Regions from separate parts of the Homo sapiens genome. Here region 2 is linked to region 1. Evidence: fine-mapped expression QTL. Tissue or cell type: fibroblasts. Region 1 holds a variant in brackets; the other region holds the start of a gene. All regions are shown on one strand. Distances are between the middles of the regions.

Region 1 (10,129 bases):
GAATCTGAAAACGATGAAAGGGGGAAGCCAGTCATTTGCTCTGCTTTTCACTTACCGCAGTTCATCACACTGTTTGCATCACAAGTGGCCCCAGAGGTCTTCATGGTCATGATGTCCCCATAGCAGCCGTGGTACAGGCGTGGATGTAGGTGAGGCTTCATTGAGTGACTGAAGGGGTATGAGCCCCTGGAAGTGCCTAGGAGGCAGAAGTGTAACTCACATGAATCCTCTGAGAAGATATTACTTGGGTTGCTGCAATAAACATCACTAAACCAAAGGCAGAAGGCCACAGACAGAACTCCCCAACTCTCTTGTTGCCATTATTTGTTCCTCAGACAGAAGTTCCCCATGCCCACTCTGCTCCGATCTTTTGTTTTGTTTTGTATTAACACAGGACGTAATCTGAAAACTCTATGCAAAATATTATGAAATTCATCTCTTATAGATCCTAAATACATGTGCAGTCTTTTTTTTTCCTTTTTTTAAGAGACAAGGTCTTGCTCTGTTGTCCAGGCTGGAGTGCAGTGGCATGATCATAGCTCGCTGCAGGCACCAACACCTGGGCTCAAACTATCCTCCCACCCCAGCCTCCTGAGTAGCTGGAACCACAGGTGCATATCACCAGGACTGGCTTATTTTCTCTTTTTGTAGAGATGGGGTTTTGCTATGTTGCCCAAGCTAGTCTCAAACTCCTGTGCTCAAGCGATCCTCTCTCCTTGGCCTCCCAAAGTGCTGGGATTACAGGCACTGTAGTCATACCATGCTCTATGTCAGAATTAAAACTGACAGGTTTTTAAGCAGGAAACTTGAGAGTTTTTTTTTTTTTTTTAAGATTCAGGGGGTACATGTGCAGGTTTGTTACGTGGGCATATTGTGTGATGCTGAGGATTGGCCTTCTATTGATCCTTCACCCAAATAGTGAACACAGTACCTGATGTGTAGTTTTCAACCCTTGCCTCCCTACCTTCCTCCCTCCCTCCTTCCTTTTACAGTCCCCAGTGTCTATTGTTTTGAGAGGAATTTTAAAACATTTCTGACACAAATGCCTCTGGAGATGTGAACATCTAGATTAACAATTTGCCTTTCTTAAGCCAAAATTGACAAATGGGGTCTAATTAAACTAAAGAGCTTCTGCACAGCAAAAGAAACTACCATCAGAGTGAACAGGCAACCTACAAAATGGGAGAAAATTTTCGCAACCTACTCATCTGACAAAGGGCTAATATCCAGAATCTACAATGAACTCAAACAAATTTACAAGAAAAAAACAAACAACCCCATCAAAAAGTGGGCGAAGTACATGAACAGACACTTCTCAAAAGAAGACATTTATGCAGCCAAAAAACACATGAAAAAATGCTCACCATCACTGGCTATCAGAAAAATGCAAATCAAAACCACAATGAGATACCATCTCACACCAGTTAGAATGGCAATCATTAAAAAGTCAGGCAACAACAGGTGCTGGAGAGGATGTGGAGAAATAGGAACACTTTTACACTGTTGGTGGGACTGTAAACTAGTTCAACCATTGTGGAAGTCAGTGTGGCGATTCCTCAGGGATCTAGAACTAGAAATACCATTTGACCCTGCCATCCCATTACTGGGTATATACCCAAAGGACTATAAATCATGCTGCTATAAAGACACATGCACACGTATGTTTATTGCGGCACTATTCACAATAGCAAAAACTTGGAACCAACCCAAATGTCCAACAATGATAGACTGGATTAAGAAAATGTGGCACATATACACCATGGAATACTATGCAGCCATAAAAAATGATGACTTCATGTCCTTTGTAGGGACATGGATGAAATTGGAAATCATCATTCTCAGTAAACTATCACCAAGGACAAAAAACCAAACACCACATGTTCTCACTCATAGGTGGGAATTGAACAATGAGAACACATGGACACAGGAAGGGGAACATCACACTCTGGGGACTGTTGTGGGGTGGAGGGAGGGGGGAGGGATAGCATTAGGAGATATACCTAATGCTAAATGACGAGTTAATGGGTGCAGCACACCAGCATGGCACATGTATACATATGTAACTAACCTGCACATTGTGCACATGTACCCTAAAACTTAAAGTATAATAATAATAAAATAAAATAAAATAAAATAAAAATAAATAAATAAAATTCAAAAAAAACCAATTTGCCTTTGTTTAGAAAGATAAGAAAGAAGGGCACCATAACAATTTAAATATATTCTTATTATATATCATTTACTGTGAAGTTGAGTTCCTATGTATATTTAATAAAATTAGAAGTAAAAATTGAATTTGCCAAAATAATTTAAGTCAAATCTATTCTTGTCTTTTTGTTCTGTCATTAAAAAGTGAATTTCTGTCCAAGTCTACCTGTTACAGGAGAGGCAGAGCTTTTGCTAAAGGAGATACAAAGTTATTTTCTGTAATGTTGAAAAGTTTGTTCTAACGGTTTCAAGGACTGTTAACTTGTACCTTAAGAGTCCAAATATTTGTTATAAGACAGTACTTAGGGCTGGATGTTGTGGCTTATGCCTAGAATCCCAGCACTTTGAGAGGCTGAGGCAGGACGATTGCTTGAGCGTAGGAGTTTGAGACCAGCCTATGCAACATGGCAAAACTCATTTCTACAAAAAATACAAAAATTAGCCTGGTGTAGTGGCACATGCCTGTAGTCCCAGTTGCATGGGAGACTGAGACAGGAAGATTGATTGAACCCGGGAGGTCGAGGCTGCAGTGAGCTTTGATGGTGCCACTGCACTCCAGCCTGGGCAACAGAACAAGACCCTGTCTCAAATCTCAAAAAAAAAAAAAAGGATTTTGTTAAAATGTTTGATGTAAAAAAAATAGAATCTGGTTGGGCGTGGTGGCTCACACCTGTAATCCCAGCACTTTGGGAGGCCAAGGCAGGCGGATCACCTGAGGTCGGGAGTTCAAGACCAGTCTGACCAACACGGAGAAACCCATCTCTACTAAAAATACAAAATTAGCCAGGCATGGTGGTGCATGCCTGTAATCCCAGCTACTCGGGAGGCTGAGGCAGAAGAATCGCTTGAACCCAGGAGGAGGAGGATGCAGTGAGCCGAGATCGCGCCATTGCACTCCAGCCTGGGCAAAAAGAGCGAAACTCTGTCTCAAAAAAAAAAAAAAAAAAAAAAAAGAATCTAACCACTTCTCCCACCTCTGCTTCTGCCATAGTCCCAGCCAGCATCATTGCTCATCTGGACTCTCCTAACAGCCTTCTAACTGACCTCCCTGATTCACTCTTGCAGCCCATCCTCTACTTAGTAGACGGAGTGGCCCTGTGGGAATATGCATGGGCTGCTATCAGTCTTCTCTCTTAACCTTCCAGTGGCTTTCTCCTCCTTTAGGGGAATAGCCAAGTCCATCCTGCAGCCTCCAAGACCTACTAGATGTGGCCCTCTGCTCCTGTTCCTACTTCTCTTTCCCTTTGTTCACTCTCCTCCAGCCACATTCTTCTTTGTGCTTATCCTTCAACATGCCAGGCAGGTTTCTGCCTCAAAGCCTGTATGTTTGTGGTCCCTTTTGCCTAGAATGCTATTCCTCCTGGTATCTACATGATCATGCCTTCAGGTCTCTGTCCAAATATCACCTTATCAGCAGAATATATAGCGAGTTTATAGACAAAAAAAGAAAATAGTCCTTAAACATATAAAAGACGTTAAACCACACTCAAAAGAAGAGAAAGGCCACATTAAAACATCATTATAACAGCATTTTCCAACTCTTTTTTTTTTTTTTTTTTTGAGACAGAGTCTTGCTCTGTCGCCCAGGCTGCAGTACAGTGGTGCGATCATGGCTCACTGCAAGCTCCGCCTCCTGGGTTCATGCCATTCTCCTGCCTCAGCCTCCCCAGCAGCTGGGACTACAGGCGCCTGCCA[T/C]CACACCCGGCTAATTTTTTGTATTTTTAGTAGAGGCGGGGTTTCAGCATGTTAGCCAGGATGGTCTCGATCTGCTGACCTTGTGATCCGCCCACCTTGGCCTCCCAAAGTGCTGGGATTACAGGCGTGAGCCACCACGCCTGGCTGCATTTTCCAACTCTTTAGTTGGCAAGAGCCCAAAGGTTTGGCAATACCCTCTGTGGGAGAGGTTGTGAGGAAATAGGCTGTCACACACATTGCTGTGGAACACAGTTTTGTGATAGGCTGTTCATTCCAGCACTGTTGATAAGAGCAAAGGACTGCAAACAACACAAATGTCATTAATTTAGGGACTGGTTGAGTAAGTGATGCTACGTCCACAGTGGAGCACTATGCAGCTGCAAAAGGAAAGAATAAGACCTGTATATACTCCTGTAAAATTCTCTCCAGGGACAAAATAGTATTTATAGAATTGTACTCTTTGTGTAAGAAAGGTAAGAAAATACAATCGTATATTTTGTGTGATTTGCTCATATTTTCAAAAGAAACAATACAAGGATGAATGAAAAACTGATAAAAATTGTTAGTTATGGAGAGAGTAAGAGGAAGGTAAAGGGAACAGGGATAGGGGATAGACTAACTATCTTTTTTAAAGTTTTTATTTTGGAACCATGTAAATGTTATCATAAATTTTAAAATTAAATCAAATGGGGAAAAATGGAATCATAAAAAAGAAGAACAAATGAACATAACTCTATAACAAATTGAAAGATTAATAAACACATAGAGGAGAATTATCTTAAGTGACTTTAAAATATATCCATATAAGTCTATACCACTACATAGGAATCCATCCTGTGAACATAAATAATCACAAGAAAATCTTAAATTATATTTACTGTCTCATTGTTGGTTGGTAATACTGTCATACTTATTTTGACACTATTGTATGTAAATAAGTAATAATGCTAATGTCATTAGAACTAGGATTTTTAGTGTAAGATAGCAGAGGTACAAATATAAAACTGATGTAAAATGCTTGCATTCTTAAATATAAATGTGAAATATCTGAATGCATAGTTGTTTTCCTTTTAAAAATATATATTTTCTAGTTCCTGCCACTGAAAACACCTGAAATAAACGACAGCTCCATAGCAATGGAGCACTTTTACTTCCCACACTGTGGTCTCTAAATACCATTTCCTGCTAAGTGGAACCAGCGCTCCTCAGAATAATGGCTGATTGCCTGCCTGGGGCAGGAAATGTTCAAGATGAACCAGGAACATCTTTTTGTGCCAGAGCTGGTCCTTATATGTTAGAGACACATTAAAAAAAAAAATTTTTTTTTCCAGATGGAGTCTCACTCTGTCGCCCAGGCTGGAGTGCAGTGGCCATTCTCCTGCCTCAGCCTCCCAAGTAGCTGGGACTACAGGTGCCTGCCACCACACCTGGCTAATTTTTTGTATTTTTAGTAGAGATGGTGTATCACTGTGTTAGCCAGGATGGTCTCAATCTCCTGACCTCTTGATCCGCCTGCCTCGGCCTCCCAAAGTGCAGGGATTACAGGTGTGAGCCACCGTGCCCAGCCCAAAAATTTTTACAGGTGAAATGTTTTTATCTCACTGCAAGCTCCGCCTCCCAAGTTCATGCCATTCTCCTGCCTCAGCCTCCCAAGTAGCTGGGACTACAGGTGCCTGCCACCACACCTGGCTAATTTTTTGTATTTTTAGTAGAGATGGTGTATCACTGTGTTAGCCAGGATGGTCTCAATCTCCTGACCTCTTGATCCGCCTGCCTCGGCCTCCCAAAGTGCAGGGATTACAGGTGTGAGCCACCGTGCCCAGCCCAAAAATTTTTACAGGTGAAATGTTTTTATCTCCCTCCCTTCCTCTCACTCTTTCCCTCTCTCTTCCCTTTTTCCTCTCACTCTCTTACTGTTCGTTCCTCTCACTAGAAGATAAATTTCATTAGGTCAGATACTAGATGTTTTTCTCTGCTATATCCTCCTCAGCACCTGGAACAATGCTTGGCACAAAGTAGACATTTAATAAACATTTGCTGAATGGAAGAATGGATAGTTGGATGGATGAAGGAATGAGACAGAAAGGGATTGTTTAAATTATCTGGATCAAGTGTCCTTATATTGACAGGTTCAGTATCCTTTCACTGGGAGGCAGTCTTTGCCAGGCTCACTGTGTGGCCCACAGACCACAGGCATCAAAGTTACCCAGGAAGCTTATTAAAAATGCTTATCACTGGGCCGGGCGTGGTGGCTCACACCTATAATCCCAGCACTTTGGGAGGCCAAGGCGGACGGATCACGAGGTCAGGAGATCAAGACCATCCTGGGTAACACAGTGAAACCCTGTCTCTACTAAAAATACAAAAAAATTAGCTGGGCATGATGGTGGGCGCCTGTAGTCCCAGCTACTTGGGAGGCTGAGGCAGAAGAATGGTATGAACCCAGGAGGCAGAGCTTGCAGTGAGCTGAGATCGCACCACTGCACTCTCCAGCCTGGGCGACAGAGCAAGACTCTGTCTCAAAAAAAAAAAAAAAAAAAAAGGCTTATCACTGGGCTTTTCACACCAGATCTACTGCACCAAAATCTTGCAGTATAAGGCGAAAGAAGCTGCCTTTTACCCAGCATTCCCAGTTGACTCTTACACATGTTTATGAACCACTGCTTTAAGGGAACTGGAATATGACCATGGACCCTACGCTGCCTGTGTAGGCCTTATAAACACACAAGCCCTTTTTAAATTAAGAGTCACCTTTCAGCTATACACAGCTAATATGGTAGCTCATAATTAATCTACTGGCTATTTAACTCTGCTCTCACCTGGCAATCTAAAAAGAGTAAAAATTTAAAACTATGTTGCCCTGTTTTGACCATAAGTAACTGGAAATTACTTTCGGGTAGCCTTGTTTTTCCAAATTTAGAATTAAACATTTTAGAAACACTTTCCTTTCAGTCACCATTCTATAATTAAAGACAACTTGAACATTGCTCATAATGGCTTTTCATTTTGCTTAGGTCAGAGTTTTCACATTCTCTTATTCAAGATCCCTTACCAACTTACCAACCTATCTTTCCAGCCTTCCCCCCAGAAACCCCCTCGTCTGTCCAGACCACACTGACCCAAAGACTTTTCATTCATTTCTGCCTCTGCTTTTTTACTGAAATCTTTCTTCCCATCCAGCAGGCTCTTCCTTTTTCTTATTAAATCACCAAGCATCCTTCAATTGACATGTCCCCCCCAAAAGCCTTTCACATCTGAGCATTCTAGTTGGATGTGAGCTCTTCCTCCCAAACCTTTCCCAGACTAGTGCTTTTTTCCCACCTATACACATTGAACTCTCATCCACTGCTTGGCATTGATAATTGTCTCTTCATGTGTTTTGCTTCCAAGGCACTGTTCCATATACCTCTCGGTAAGGTATCCAGCCTGATAGGTGCATTGTCAGACAGGAAGTAAGCAGATCAATAAATATTAGATTATTTGAAATTCCCATAGATCCTGTTTTTCACCTGCTTAGCAAGCAGAACACACTGTTAATTATAGAAATAATAGTTGATTAATGGCCAAGCTGGTCAGAATGAGAGCCCACTCTTCCATTACAGGTAATCATTGCTCTTTCTGATTCATGATTGTGCTGGAGGTTTTTGTGGACACCCTGTGAACAATGCTAAATCTCAGCCAGTGACTTACCAATGAGGGCAATTAGTCCCCAAAACACCACGGAGGATAACATGGCGGGGAATCTTATCTTCCAGGACCTGCTCTGATTTGAAATAGAAACTGGTTAATTTTAAAACCTGAAAATTTCCTAAAGAAAAATTTGCTTTGATATTTTAAAAAGTTTAGAGTTATTTCCAATTCACTACTCATTTCCCTGTTTCAAGATAGTATTCTCACAGGCTCAGTACATAGTTTGTTGGCACACTCTCTTTCTTAAGCATAAACTCCTAATCTCACTTCAATCCAATTTCATATTGACATGAGTCATGCGTATCTTACATATGTAACTAAATATACACTCCCATCCCACCTCTAAGCTTGGTAACACCACAATTTTGTTCCCTTTCTTTTTAAAAAAAAAAATACTGATCTTTTCATTCTAGTTATTCACCCTACCCCTGGCTTCAAGGATCAGTTTTGGTCTTTCATTCATTTATTTAGAAATGGGATCTTGCTCTGTCACCCAGGCTGGAGTGCAGTGGCATAATCATAGCTCACTATGGCCTCAAACTCCTGGGCTCAAGCGATCCTCCCACCTCAGCCTCCTGAGTAGCTGGGGCGACATATGCGTGCCACCATGCCTGGGTGTTTCCATTCTTATACCAGGGTCTCCGTAGGGAAAACAAAATAAAACAAAATACCAACAGGAGCATGAGAACGTGACTTAGAAGAGGTTTCCTCTGCTCCATTTCTTCCTCAATCAACTCTATTCTTGGTTTCATTCAAATGGTAGCTTATAAGTTTTACAAGACATAAGAAGGCCAGCACTAACCTTGTTTGCAACCTTACAGAGAAAATCTCCCCTCTCTGTTTGCAAAGGTCTTCTGTACTCAGCAGCAAACTGCACTTCAAGCTTTTACAAAGCGACGGCCTTTGTCCTGTAACATAGGCTTAACAATTGGAGAATCCATTAGTCAGTAGATCACTGCGCACCTGGCTTCAACAGAGTAGACATCAGCGTGGCTCTACTGCTGTGGAGGAAACTTTTAAACACCAGCATGAAGACTCACCTGGCTTTTCTTACCTTCGTCCTGTACCAATGATCATTAGAGGAGCTTTATATATGGTTTAAAACCCTCTCTTTAAACCATTGACCTCATTAGGCCTGGTTATAATAGTACTTAGGACTTAGGTGACCCAATTAATAAGAGGATTTCAAAGGGCTTATTAACCACTATTAATTAATTAACCTAATGAACCCCCAAGTTGCTCAGGAGGCATATTTTGATAGATTGTTTCTAGATATCTAAAATTGTGCCAAACAGCTTCTAAATTTGCGAATAAGAAACAGATAATTCACTTTAAAAGGATAACAGGAAATACTAGCAATTTTTATTCTTGGATTGGTTATTTACCTGAAATATTGGGTCTCCTGCTTTTTGTTCCCATTCCAATGTCATATGATCCCCGTACCAGTATGTCACATGATCTCAAACCACTATGTCACATGATCATGATAGGTGAACTTGGCTCCTTACTCCAATCCCACTTCTGAGAAAAAGGTGCAAGTGTGGCCACCTGCTCTAGGAGATCAATGCAAAACCAGGGAGTAGCAACGTGAGTGCTCATTTGCCCATACTTGCTAAGGATATGGGAAAAAAGATTATAGCCAGGGATGAAAACTTCTTCAAGAAGAGAGTATCTTTCTTCAGGCTTATGTCCAAAGGAAGAGAGGAAGCATATTGTGCAGCCCCAGGAACAGGAAATGGAAGGGACGTTCTTGAAACAGGCAAAGCACATTGCGCTGAGGGGAGGAAGAAGTCTGGTCTGGGTCCTTCCACAAGCGTGTCCAGTTTCTCAGACTGCACACAGTCCTCCCCCACATCCACTGAGTGAAGAAAGGTGGAAGGCAGCTGTACAGGGAACAGGAAGACAAAACCACAGGCAACTTCCCAGCTCCCTGGCAATAAAACCACCTCCACTCCCAGGAGAACATGCCCTCCCCAAGCTGAGGTCTGCACAGTCCACTGGCATTCACTTCTGCCCTGCCTGCCTTCCTGCTTGTAGAACAGACGTCTCTGGCATGGCCTCTAGCCTTCCATCCCTGGAAGAGTGGCAGGGCTGTTCTGAGCCAATGGATGATTCCTACCTGACTCTCAGGAAAGTGACCCATGGAGGGTCTGCTCCACCACCATCAACACTGCAGTCAGGACCACTCTTGAATAAGGGATATTGCAGGAGTCTAACTGCCCTGAGGCAGGCCTTAGAAACCCATAGTCTATGACCCAGCGACATTGTGCCCGTGACCCACTTCACTGCAGGGTGAGTAGAGCCACTTACCTGAGGCTTCCAGGCTAAGTGCAATGAGAAAGCTCAAGAAAGGGAGATTAAGAAGTTACGAATGATAAGTTAGGTAAAAGAGAGTAGGTGGAGGCTGGGGCTCTCCCTACATGCACTGGAAGAAGACATTGTTAATAAAACATTTAAAGCACTGTTGAATGTGAAGAATACTTATCCTTCTGCTCTCAGTTAGTGGGGCTACGAGTCCTTCTAGGTATGAGGTCCT
Region 2 (10,129 bases), 50 kb after region 1:
TCTGGACCTTTGCCTCCAAAGCGCCTCCCACCAAGCCCTGCCACTCCAGGGTGTATGTCATCATTGCCCCAGTCAGCAGAGCCTGGCAGCCTAGCATTTTGAATTATTACTGTCATTACATGTAGGAATGTGCATATAAACAAGGCACTTGGTACTTTCATAATGCTTCTCTCATCTCTTTTGTTTTGAGGTTAACCTTATGGGTTGTTTCTTTCAAACACCCAGGAAGAGATCACATCTCAAGATGGAGAGGCTTTAAGGAAGTCATTTGAAGCCAGGTGTGGTGGCATACACCTGTAGTCCTAGCTACTTGGGAGGCTGAGGCAGGAGGACTGCTTGAGCCCAGAGGGTCAAGGGTGCAGTGAGCTATGATCACACCACTGCACTCCATCCTGGGAAACAGAGCAAGAGCCTGTCTCAAAAAAGAAAAAGGAAGTTATTCGATTTCTGTCTTCTTAAACTGAGGGGGCATATGCCCTTCAGTTGCAGTCATGCTTTTTGTTATTCTCTCTACAACATTGAGATGGTCTGTCCGATTTTGCTTAGTTGAGCACAAAATGTCATGGTCAGTCCCAACACCAAAAAGATTCAGGGACCTGGAATCTTAGCTGGGTCTGCAGGAACGCTCAGATTTAATCACCCAACAGGAGTCATTTATTCAGCATCCTGAGCCTCCAGCAGTAAACAAGAGAGGACAACCAATCCCAGGAGAAAAGAATGGACAAAGAGCTGCTTGGGTATAGGAAAAGCTCATGGTCTCATGAAAGTGCATCACTGGCTTTATGGAAGGACCCTTCAGGAAAAAGCACTGCTCACATTCAAATGCTCCACCCAGGGTATTTCACTCTTTTTGCTGCTTTTCCAGGAAAGAAAAAATACTTCCTCTTGGAAACCCAAGTGGAAGGACTCAGCTTTTATTGTAACAGGAGAGCTACCGTATTTTCCATGCTTGGAACTAAATATCTGTGTTGAGAAGTCACTTTAATGAAAGAGTCTATGTAAATACATGTGCCACTTAATGGGAACACAGAATTACTTTCTAGTTGCTCCTGGGACCAGGTCATCAAGGTAAAGTTTTTCAATTTCATCAGGGAAGAGCAAGAAGTGACAATGGAATTTTTCTTTTTTTTCTTAGAGCCAGAGTTTTACTCTGTCACCCAGGCTGGAGTGCAATGGCACGATCACGGCTCACTGCAGCCTTGACCTCCTGGGCTCAAGTGATACTCCCACCTTAGCCTCCCAAGTAGCTGGGGCTAGAGGTGTATGCCACCATGCCCAGATAATTTTTTAGTTTTTATGTAGAAATGGGTCTCACTATGTTGCCCAGGCTGGTCTTGAACTCCAGGCTTCAAGTGATCCTTCCACCTCAGCTTCCTGAGTAGGTAGGGTTACAGGCTCAAGCCACCACACCTAGCTTGGAATTCTTAAATGGATGAACAATGTCATTTTGTCCATAAATACAGCATATTGAAGCAACCCAAACTCTATGGCCCAACTTTACAAGTGACGAAAAGTACTCTGTGTTTAGAAGAGATTGTTGAGACATCACTCGGGTGTGCTCAAAGAGTGTCTGTCAGTTCCCTATGACTCATTTGTTAATTCCCCTGTGGCTCCCTGCTTAAAACCATTATGAAGATGTCAGACCAAGGCAGCACAGTGGTCATGATGTCAAGCACAATGTTTATGGTAGCATCCCTCTTCTCCCTTCCCAGAGAGCAAAATAGTAACAAACAGCAAGGGGGTGTCAACAAGCTGGGGCAACAGGCCTGCCAGGCACACTGGAAACTGACAACCAGAGCATCCCTCAGGAGCTACCTCATGTTCCTGGTGGCTTTGATGGGGACATCTTCCTCTACTCACCCTCTCTCCACTGAGTACTTTGGAATTCCCAAAGCACTGTGTAAGTTTGTAAGGCATAATGGACCATGTCTTCTTCAGTTCATCAATTTTTCTAGAAAAGGTAGAAACAGGTATCTTTGGTCTTATGGTTTTCTCACCTTAGAAACTTTTCCATGAATGCTCTCAATCTTTACCTTGAACAGTATCATTGCAGGTCATTGGGGCCCTCCATCCAGCCCAGAAATGTGACGTATTAACACCTCAACGTGCCCAATGAAGGTGCCCCTGCCCCATTGTGGTGTCCCCATCTAATCCTGAGAGAACTGAGAACTCCTGTATGCATCCACATTAGGCATGGTCTCCTGCTCTAAGCTGTGTTGTCACCCTTGTTTATTGCTAACATGTCTCTGTGTCTACCTACTCATTGTGTGCCAACAGGCCTTTCTTTTTTTAATTTTTTAATTTTAATTTTAATTACTTTTTGTTTTGTTGGGTTTTGCTTTGTTTTGTTTGAGACAAAGTCTCACTCTGTCGCCCAGGCTGGAGTGCAGTGGTGCGATCTCAGCTCAATGCAACCTCCGCCTCTTGAATTCAAGTGATTATCTTGCCTCAGCCTCCTGAGTAGCTGAGACTACAGGCACTCCACGCCCAGCTAATTTTTGTATTTTTAGTAGAGATGGGGTTTCACCATGTTGGCCAGGCTGGTTGAGAACTCCTGACCTCAGGTGATCCACCCACCTCAGCCTCCCAAAATGCTGGGATCATAGGCATGAGCCACCGCGCCCAGCCCCTGGGTTTTTTTCTTTTTCTTTTCTTTTTGTTTTTTCTTTTTCTTTTTCTTTTTTTCTTTTTTTTTTTTTTTTAATCGAGACAAGGTCTCACTCTGTCTCCCAGGTGGGAGTGCAGTGGCCCAAAATTGTGGAATCATCTCACCATTATAAGCCTGTAAGAATGTCTCATTAGATTACTCTTTAATTTTTAAAATTGTTTTAATTTTTTTTTTTTCAAAACATAGTCTGACTGTCACCTAGGCTGGAGTGAAGTGCTGTGATCTCGGCTCACTGCACCCTCGACCTGCCTGAGCTCAGGTGATTCTCCTGCCTCAGCCTCCTGAGTAGCTGGGATTACAGCCCTGTGCCACCACGCCCAGCTAATTTTTGTATTTTTAGTAAAGACGGGGTTTCGCCATGTTGGCCAGGCTGGTCTCAAACTCCAGGGCTCAAGCAATCTGCCTGCCTCAGCCTCCCAAAGTGCTGGGAACCACCAACACCTGGCCTGTTTTAAAATTATTTTTAATTTTTTATTATTTTAACTTTTTAATTTTTTTAATTTTTGTTTTTTTAAAATTTTTAAATATTTATTTTATTCCATTTTTAAAATGTTTAAGTTTTTAAATTTCTTAAAGGCCTTACCAGTAGCATCATGTCGTACTCATCCTCTTCTTGCTATTCTAATCTTCTCCCTCCCTACATATATACACACACACGTACACACACACACGTACACACACACACATGCACGTACAGCAACACTCCAGCCCATTGCCTCACAGATTGCTATGCACCAACAGGCCTAAAATTAAAATAGTAATAGCAATGTAGTCACAAATATAAAATAATATAAAATTATTCTGCCACTAAGATCTTTTTTTTTTTGAGAAAAATACAACTTTTTAGAGCAAAAATATAGGGCAGCAACAGGAAGGCTCATTTTAAGCTGTTACGCTGCGTAGAGCTGCACCTTCACATGGCCTGTGAAAATACCTATTCACTGAATTTGGATTGTAATCAATAATTACCAGCCTAGAAGACCTCTGAAAGTTTGATCATTTTCTTCCCTCTGGGCAGGCAAATCTTCCCTGCATAGAGACACTGTGAGCTGGAAGGGAGTTCCTTCTCTCAGTGCGTCCTCTGTGCCTGCTTTTCCCATTTGCGTTTTTGAGAGTTCAGAACTCCAGGAAGGATCATCCTATGCTGGAGATTTCCCCGTGAACGTTTCCTTCTGCACAGAGCAAATCAGGGAGACTTGGCCCCTCTGTTCCGTCTATGGACTCTAGAGGCGTATCTGTCTTTTTAGTCTGTTAGCCGAGGCTGTTAGACATGTTGGCCTTAGTTCTTACACAGCTTGCAGAGAAAATAAGATTGTTATAGAACCAATACTCATGGTCTATGGGTTAATGTAGCATTGGCAAGACTGCCCATGAGGGCAGGCAAGGGATTTACCGTCTGGCAAAATACAAACACCTTAGTCTTTTGGCTTTCAGTTAACAAATATGACGTCGCATTTGGCCCTATTACAGCTACAGTTAAGTGCACACACATTTCTTTTCTCCCATTATTCGATTTGCACATGCTCACAAATCCAAAAGTAATGACATACTTGCATTAAAAGATATCTAAATTTTGATGAGTGTTGTAATGAACAGGAAAAATTATTCTATCATCTACAAATCTTTTCAAACTTGGGTTTTCTTTGCAAGGTCCTTAAGTTTCGCCTGAGTCCAATATTTCTTATGCAGCAGAGACACAATCATTGCCAACTGATCACCATACACTGGATTTTCATCCTCAATAAGCCCGAGTGTAAGATCCATGCCTCTGCTTCACACTCACCTGTCTTCAGTCAGTGCTCCTCCTTAGAGGTGGTGAGCCCACAGCGATTTATATAGAGTCCTGTTCTCTTGTTAAAAGTGTTCATCTCATCCTATTTTGGAGAGATTTATGACATCTCATAAATTATAATAATAATCATAATTATTATAAATACTCCGAACTTATATAGGGCCTTTTATTCGAGAATGTCCTGGCATTTTGCAAACATTAACCAATTTGTTTCTTGCCATACCTCAGAAGGCAGATCCTAGTTGTAGTTTAACTTTGACACATTGAGGTCCAACACTTGTCTTTATTCACATCATTTTCTGGGAATGTGGGTTAGGTAAGAAAACAAGGAAGGAAGAGAGAGAGAAAGAGAGAGAGAGTGAGAAGGAGAGAGAGAGTGAGAAGGGGAAGGGAGGAAGGGAAGAGGAAGGGAGGAAGGGAAGGAAGAAAGAAAAGGAAGAAGGAAGGAAGGAAGGGAGGGAGGGAATTGAACTTGGTGTGTCAGAAACTCATTATTGGTTTGTATTTCAGGTAAGCAGAGCGCCTAGACCAGGGGTTGGCAGCTTTTTCTTACAGACCCAGACAGGTTTTTGGGCTACGTGGTCTTTATAATGCCTCTGACATTGTAGCATGAGAGTGATCATAGATAATATTTAAATGAATGGCCAAGACTGTGTTCCAAAAAAAAAACTTTCTTTACTACACAGGTGGTGGCCCTAGGGCCGTAGGTTGCTGGCCCCTGTTCTGAACCACCGAGAGATACCAGTTCACATGTCCTCAGTTCAGCAATGTGGGGAGAGATGATCGGCTGGATGATGCTATTTTACAGACACCCAGGACCTACAGCGTGTTCCAAATGTCTACATCAATAAGTACTTTGAGAGGGTTCATATGAAGTTTCCAGGAAGGATTCTTTCCCAAGTTGTGGAAAGGGTGCATTTCATGACTGAAAGAGGGAGCCCCCTCCCTCACCACACCCTGTGCCCCAGCTCAGCTGAACAGCTTGATTTTCCCCAAACACAGCGCCATTCTTTGCACTAGGCATTCCTACAGGATCTTTCCTTTTTATCTAAACCCTCAGGGACAGGGGCTGTGTCTCATTCGTCTTTATAATACCAGCATGCAACACTCTGCATGATACATATTAGACACTCAGTAAAACACGTGGAATCAATGGCTTGCTTATCGGCTGACTGGTATACAGTCTGTTTCTTCTGCATCCCCTGCCTTAGCTCCCTCCCCATACCACAACTCAAACACAAGCTCCGTGAGAGCTGTGAATCTGGCTACTTCATTTATAAGACTGAGTCTTCAGTGCCCAGATAACAGCCTGGCACACTGTAAGTGTTCAGTAAATCTTTGTTGAATCAGTCAATGACTGAAGAATTCCTACAACCTCACCCAGCAAGATTTGGACTGGGCTTCCAATGCTGGGCCCCAGGTTAGACGTGTGTTCCTTGTGTTTCAAGCAACATGTGGATATTTCTACCATAGCACCTACAGCACTTTGGTTTGTTGTTGTCTTGAGAACAAAAACAAAGGCTTTTTTCTCCTGTATTCCTTATGGCACATAAGGGGTATTCAGTACATGTTTACGGAATGAGTAAATGAATGATTTAAAGCGTATTTATGACTTTTTGGAAGTCACTCACTCTGCATCCCCAGTGCAGACATTGAGGGTTAAGATTTTGTTATTCTCAGCCGGGCACAGAGCCTCACGTCTGTAATCCCAGCGCTTTGGGAGGCCGAGGCAGGTGGATCACTTGAGGTCAGGAGTTCGGACCAGCCTGGCCAACATGGCGAAACCCCATCTCTACTAAAAATACAAAAATTATCCAGGCATGGTGGCACACACCAGTAATCCCAGCTACTCGGGAGGCTGAGGCAGGAGAATCAGTTGAACCAAGAGGGAGAGGTTGCAGTAAGCCAAGATCATGCCAGTGTACTCCAGCCTGGGCCACAGAGCAAGCCTCCATCTGAAAAAAAAAAAAAAGAAGATTTTGTTTTTCTCTACTTGTGACTGAGATGGTGAGACCACAAGGCAGGGCACTGTGAGCAAGGGTCCAGATTTGGACACCCAGGGAGTTCCTGAACTTTAACTCTGGGAGGGGAGTGTGAGAACACTGGGTTCCTCTCGGTTGTTGGCAGAGTTGGGGTAAAAAGAGAACTAATGCACCCATTAAAAACTCTATCCTGACCCCCAAAATGGAACTCATCCATTTTATTTTTTCCACCAAGCTCTAGCACATACCAACAATTAAAAGGTATTACAGTGTGGGGAAATCTGGGGATGCCCAGCTCCACCTACAAAAGCACCCTGTCATCAGCCCAGAGGGCCATGTTAGCATCCTGGGAGGTTCTCCTGGGCAGCAGCCAGCATGTTGCCTGGCAAAGGCTCCACAGAGACGAAATGGCTTCTCACAAACCCTGCCTCTCTATGATGACTTCCACCTCCTCACCTGCTGCACCTGGGTCCCCACCCTAAGAATCCTAGAAGCTGAGGAGGTCGTTCTCCATCCAGCCTCCGGGACACTCCGCAGGCACATGACGGTCAGATTTATGTTTTAAAAAGTGTCCCCTGGCTGCTGATTGCATTGGAGGTGAGCCAGAGTGACTCGGGAGACTTCACAGAAGACCAGAAGAGAGATGATGGTTGGACTAGAGTGACGGGGCTATGGCTTGGCTGTGTCTCCACTGAAATCTCATCTCAAATTGTAGCTTCCATAATTCCCTTGCATTGTGGGAGGGACACAGTGGGAGACAATTGAATCATGGAGGCAGTTTCCCCCATACTGTTCTCCTGGTAGTGAATAAGTCTCAAGAGATCTGATGATTTTATAAGAAGAAACCCCGGCCGGGCACGGTGGCTCACGCCTGTAATCCCAGCACTTTGGGAGGCCCAGGCAGGCGGATCACGAGCTCAAGAGATAGAGAACATCCTGGCTAACACAGTGAAACCCCGTCTCCACTAAAAATACAAAAAAATTAGCCAGGCGTGGTGGGGGCACCTGAGACTTCAGGGGATTGTTGGGAAGGCAAGATTGGTTTTGAAATGTGAGGACATGAGATTTGGGAGGGGTCAGAAGTGGAATGATATGATTTGGCTCTGTCCCCACCAAAATCTCATCTCAAATTGTAGCTTGCATAATTGCCTTGTGTTGTGGGAGGGACCCAGTGGGAGACAATTGAATCATGGAGGCAGTTTCCCCCATACTGTTCTCATGGTAGTGTATAAGTCTCATGAGATCTGATGATTTTATAAGAGGAAACCCCTTTCACTTGGCTCTCACTCTTCTCTTGTCTGCTGCCATGTGAGACATGCCTTTCACCTTCCGCCATGATTGTGAGGCCTCCCCAGACAAGTGGAACTGTGAATCTGTTAAACCTCTTGCTTTTGTAAATTGCTCAGTCTCAGGTATGTCTTTATCAGCAGCATGAAAGTGGCTAAGAGAAAAAGGAAAGATATTACAGATCTATTTTAGAGGTGGAATTGACAGGACTCAGTTTGGGACAAGACGCCAAGGATGAGAGCAAAGAAGAGGACATAAGTGCCTGGGAGGATGGTACTAAGTCTGGAATGCTGAAGATGAAAGCACATTTACCAAAGAAGATGAAGTTTTAGGCTGGGTGGAGTGGCTCACGTCTGTGGTTCCAACACTTTAGGAGGTCAAGGCACTTCAAGACCAGCCTGGGCAACATAGCAACATCCTGTCTCAATTTATGAAAAAGAAAAAGAAAGGATTATGTTTTAACTCCCATGTAACAAACCTACACGTGTACACCTCAATCTAAAAATGTTTTTAAAGAGAAAAAATAACAAATTGTGGTGTAGATATGGAGAAATGGAGCCCTTATACACTCTAGGTGGGTATATACACGAATCTAGCCATTATGGAAAACAGTATGGAGATGCCTCAAAAAATTAAAAGTAGAAGTGGCATATGACCCAGAAATCTCACTGCTGGGTATGTATCCAAAGAAAATGGATATGTCAAAGGGAAATATGCACTCCCATGTTGACTGCAGCATTATTTGTAATAGCCAAGACACAGAATCATCCTAAGTGTCCATCAACACATGAGTGGATAAAGAAAATGCAGTATATACACATAATGGAATAATATTTTGTCATTAAAAAGCATGAAATCCTGTCATTTGCAGCAACACGATCAACCTAAAGGACATTAAGTGAAATAAGGCACAGAAAGACAAAATCACCCATTTGTGAAATCTAAAAAAGTTGATCATGTGTAATGGCCAGGTGTGGTGGCTCACGCCTGTAATCCCAGCACTTTGGGAGGCCGAGGCAGGCAGATTACCTGAGTCGGGAGTTCGAGACCAGCCTGGCCAACATGGTAAAACCCCGTCTTTACTAAAAGTACAAAAATTAGCCGGACATGGTGGTGGGCACCTGTAATCCCAGCTACTCAGGAGGCTGAGGCAGGAGAATTGCTTGAACCTGGAAGGTGGAGGTTGCAGTAAGCCAAGATCCCGCCACTGCACTGGGAAACAGAGCAAGACTCCATCTCAAGAAAAAAAAAAGGCGATCTCATAGAAGTAAAGAGCAGAATAGTGGCTACTAGAGGCTGGGGAGGAATGGGGAGAGATTGGTTGCATGCAAAATTACAGCTAGATAGGAGGAGTAAGTTCTGGTGTCCTATTGCACACTGCAGTGACTATATTTAACAATATTGTAGTGTATACTACAAAATATCTAAAAGGGAAGCTATTTAGTATTCTCATCAATTTGAGGTGATGGATATGCTAAATACCCTGATTTGATCATTACACAACTTATCCCATAAATCTATGCAATTCTTATGTATAAATTAAAAATAAAACTTTTACAAAATATATAATATCTTTTTATTTTGAGACGGAGTCTCGCTCTGTCACCCAGATGGAGTGAGCGTGATCTCAGCTCACTGCAACCTCCGCCTCCTGGGTTCACACCATTCTCCTGCCTCAGCCTCCCGAGTAGCTGGGACTACAGTAGCCTGCCACCATGCCCGGCTAATTTTTTGTATTTCTAGTAGAGGCGGGGTTTCACCGTGTTAGCCAGGATGGTCTCGATCTACTGACCTCATGATCCGCCGGCCTCAGCCTCCCAAAGTGCTGGGATTACAGGCATGAGCCACCACACCCTGCCTCATGATTTCTTATAAGTAAAAAACACACAAAAAAGGAGAGACCAGAGAATTGAATCCAGCCATCTAAATGGACATTGAACCCACTCAGCATGACAGAGTCAAGAATAAGACTTTGAGACAAGTGTGAACGTTTTCTTGAAAAAGTGAGGATCCAGGAGGTCTGAAAGGACAAGCCAGGGACATGGTGGCTCATAGCACAAGTTTCTGAGACACAGCCCCTGTCCCTGAGGGGTTAGATAAAAAGCAAACAGCCTGTAGGAAGGCCTAATGCAAAGAATGGCGCTGTGTTTGGGGAAAATCAAGCTGCTTAGTTGAGCTGGGGCACAGGGTGTGGTGAGGGAGGGGGCTCCCTCTTTCAGTCGTGAAATGCACCCTTTCCACAACTTGGGAAGGAATCCTTCCTGGAAACTTCATATGAACCCTCTCAAAGTACTTATTGATGTAGACATTTGGAACATGCTGTAGGTCCTGGGTGTCTGTAAAATAGCATCATCCAGCCGATCATCTCTCCCCACATTGCTGAACTGAGGACATGTGAAC

The links. PIP is the estimated chance that this variant, and not a neighbour inherited with it, causes the effect.
Region 2: LYG1 starts here. The variant in region 1 is fine-mapped to the expression of LYG1 in fibroblasts (GTEx, PIP 0.98).

What each region holds. Positions count from the first base shown.
Region 1 is chr2:99,246,625-99,256,753 of GRCh38, forward strand. It overlaps LYG2 (lysozyme g2), which reads right to left and starts at 9,042. Exons shown (of 7, transcript NM_175735.4): 1 at 8,979-9,042; 2 at 8,396-8,513; 3 at 7,594-7,661; 4 at 56-196. The coding sequence starts at 7,636. The variant T/C (reference allele first, on the strand shown) is at 3,904.
Region 2 is chr2:99,296,599-99,306,727 of GRCh38, forward strand. It overlaps LYG1 (lysozyme g1), which reads right to left and starts at 4,599. Exons shown (of 7, transcript NM_174898.3): 1 at 4,452-4,599; 2 at 1,861-1,951. The region is part of intron 1 of LOC107985923 (a long non-coding RNA gene); the gene reads left to right. It also overlaps a transcript of TXNDC9 not described here.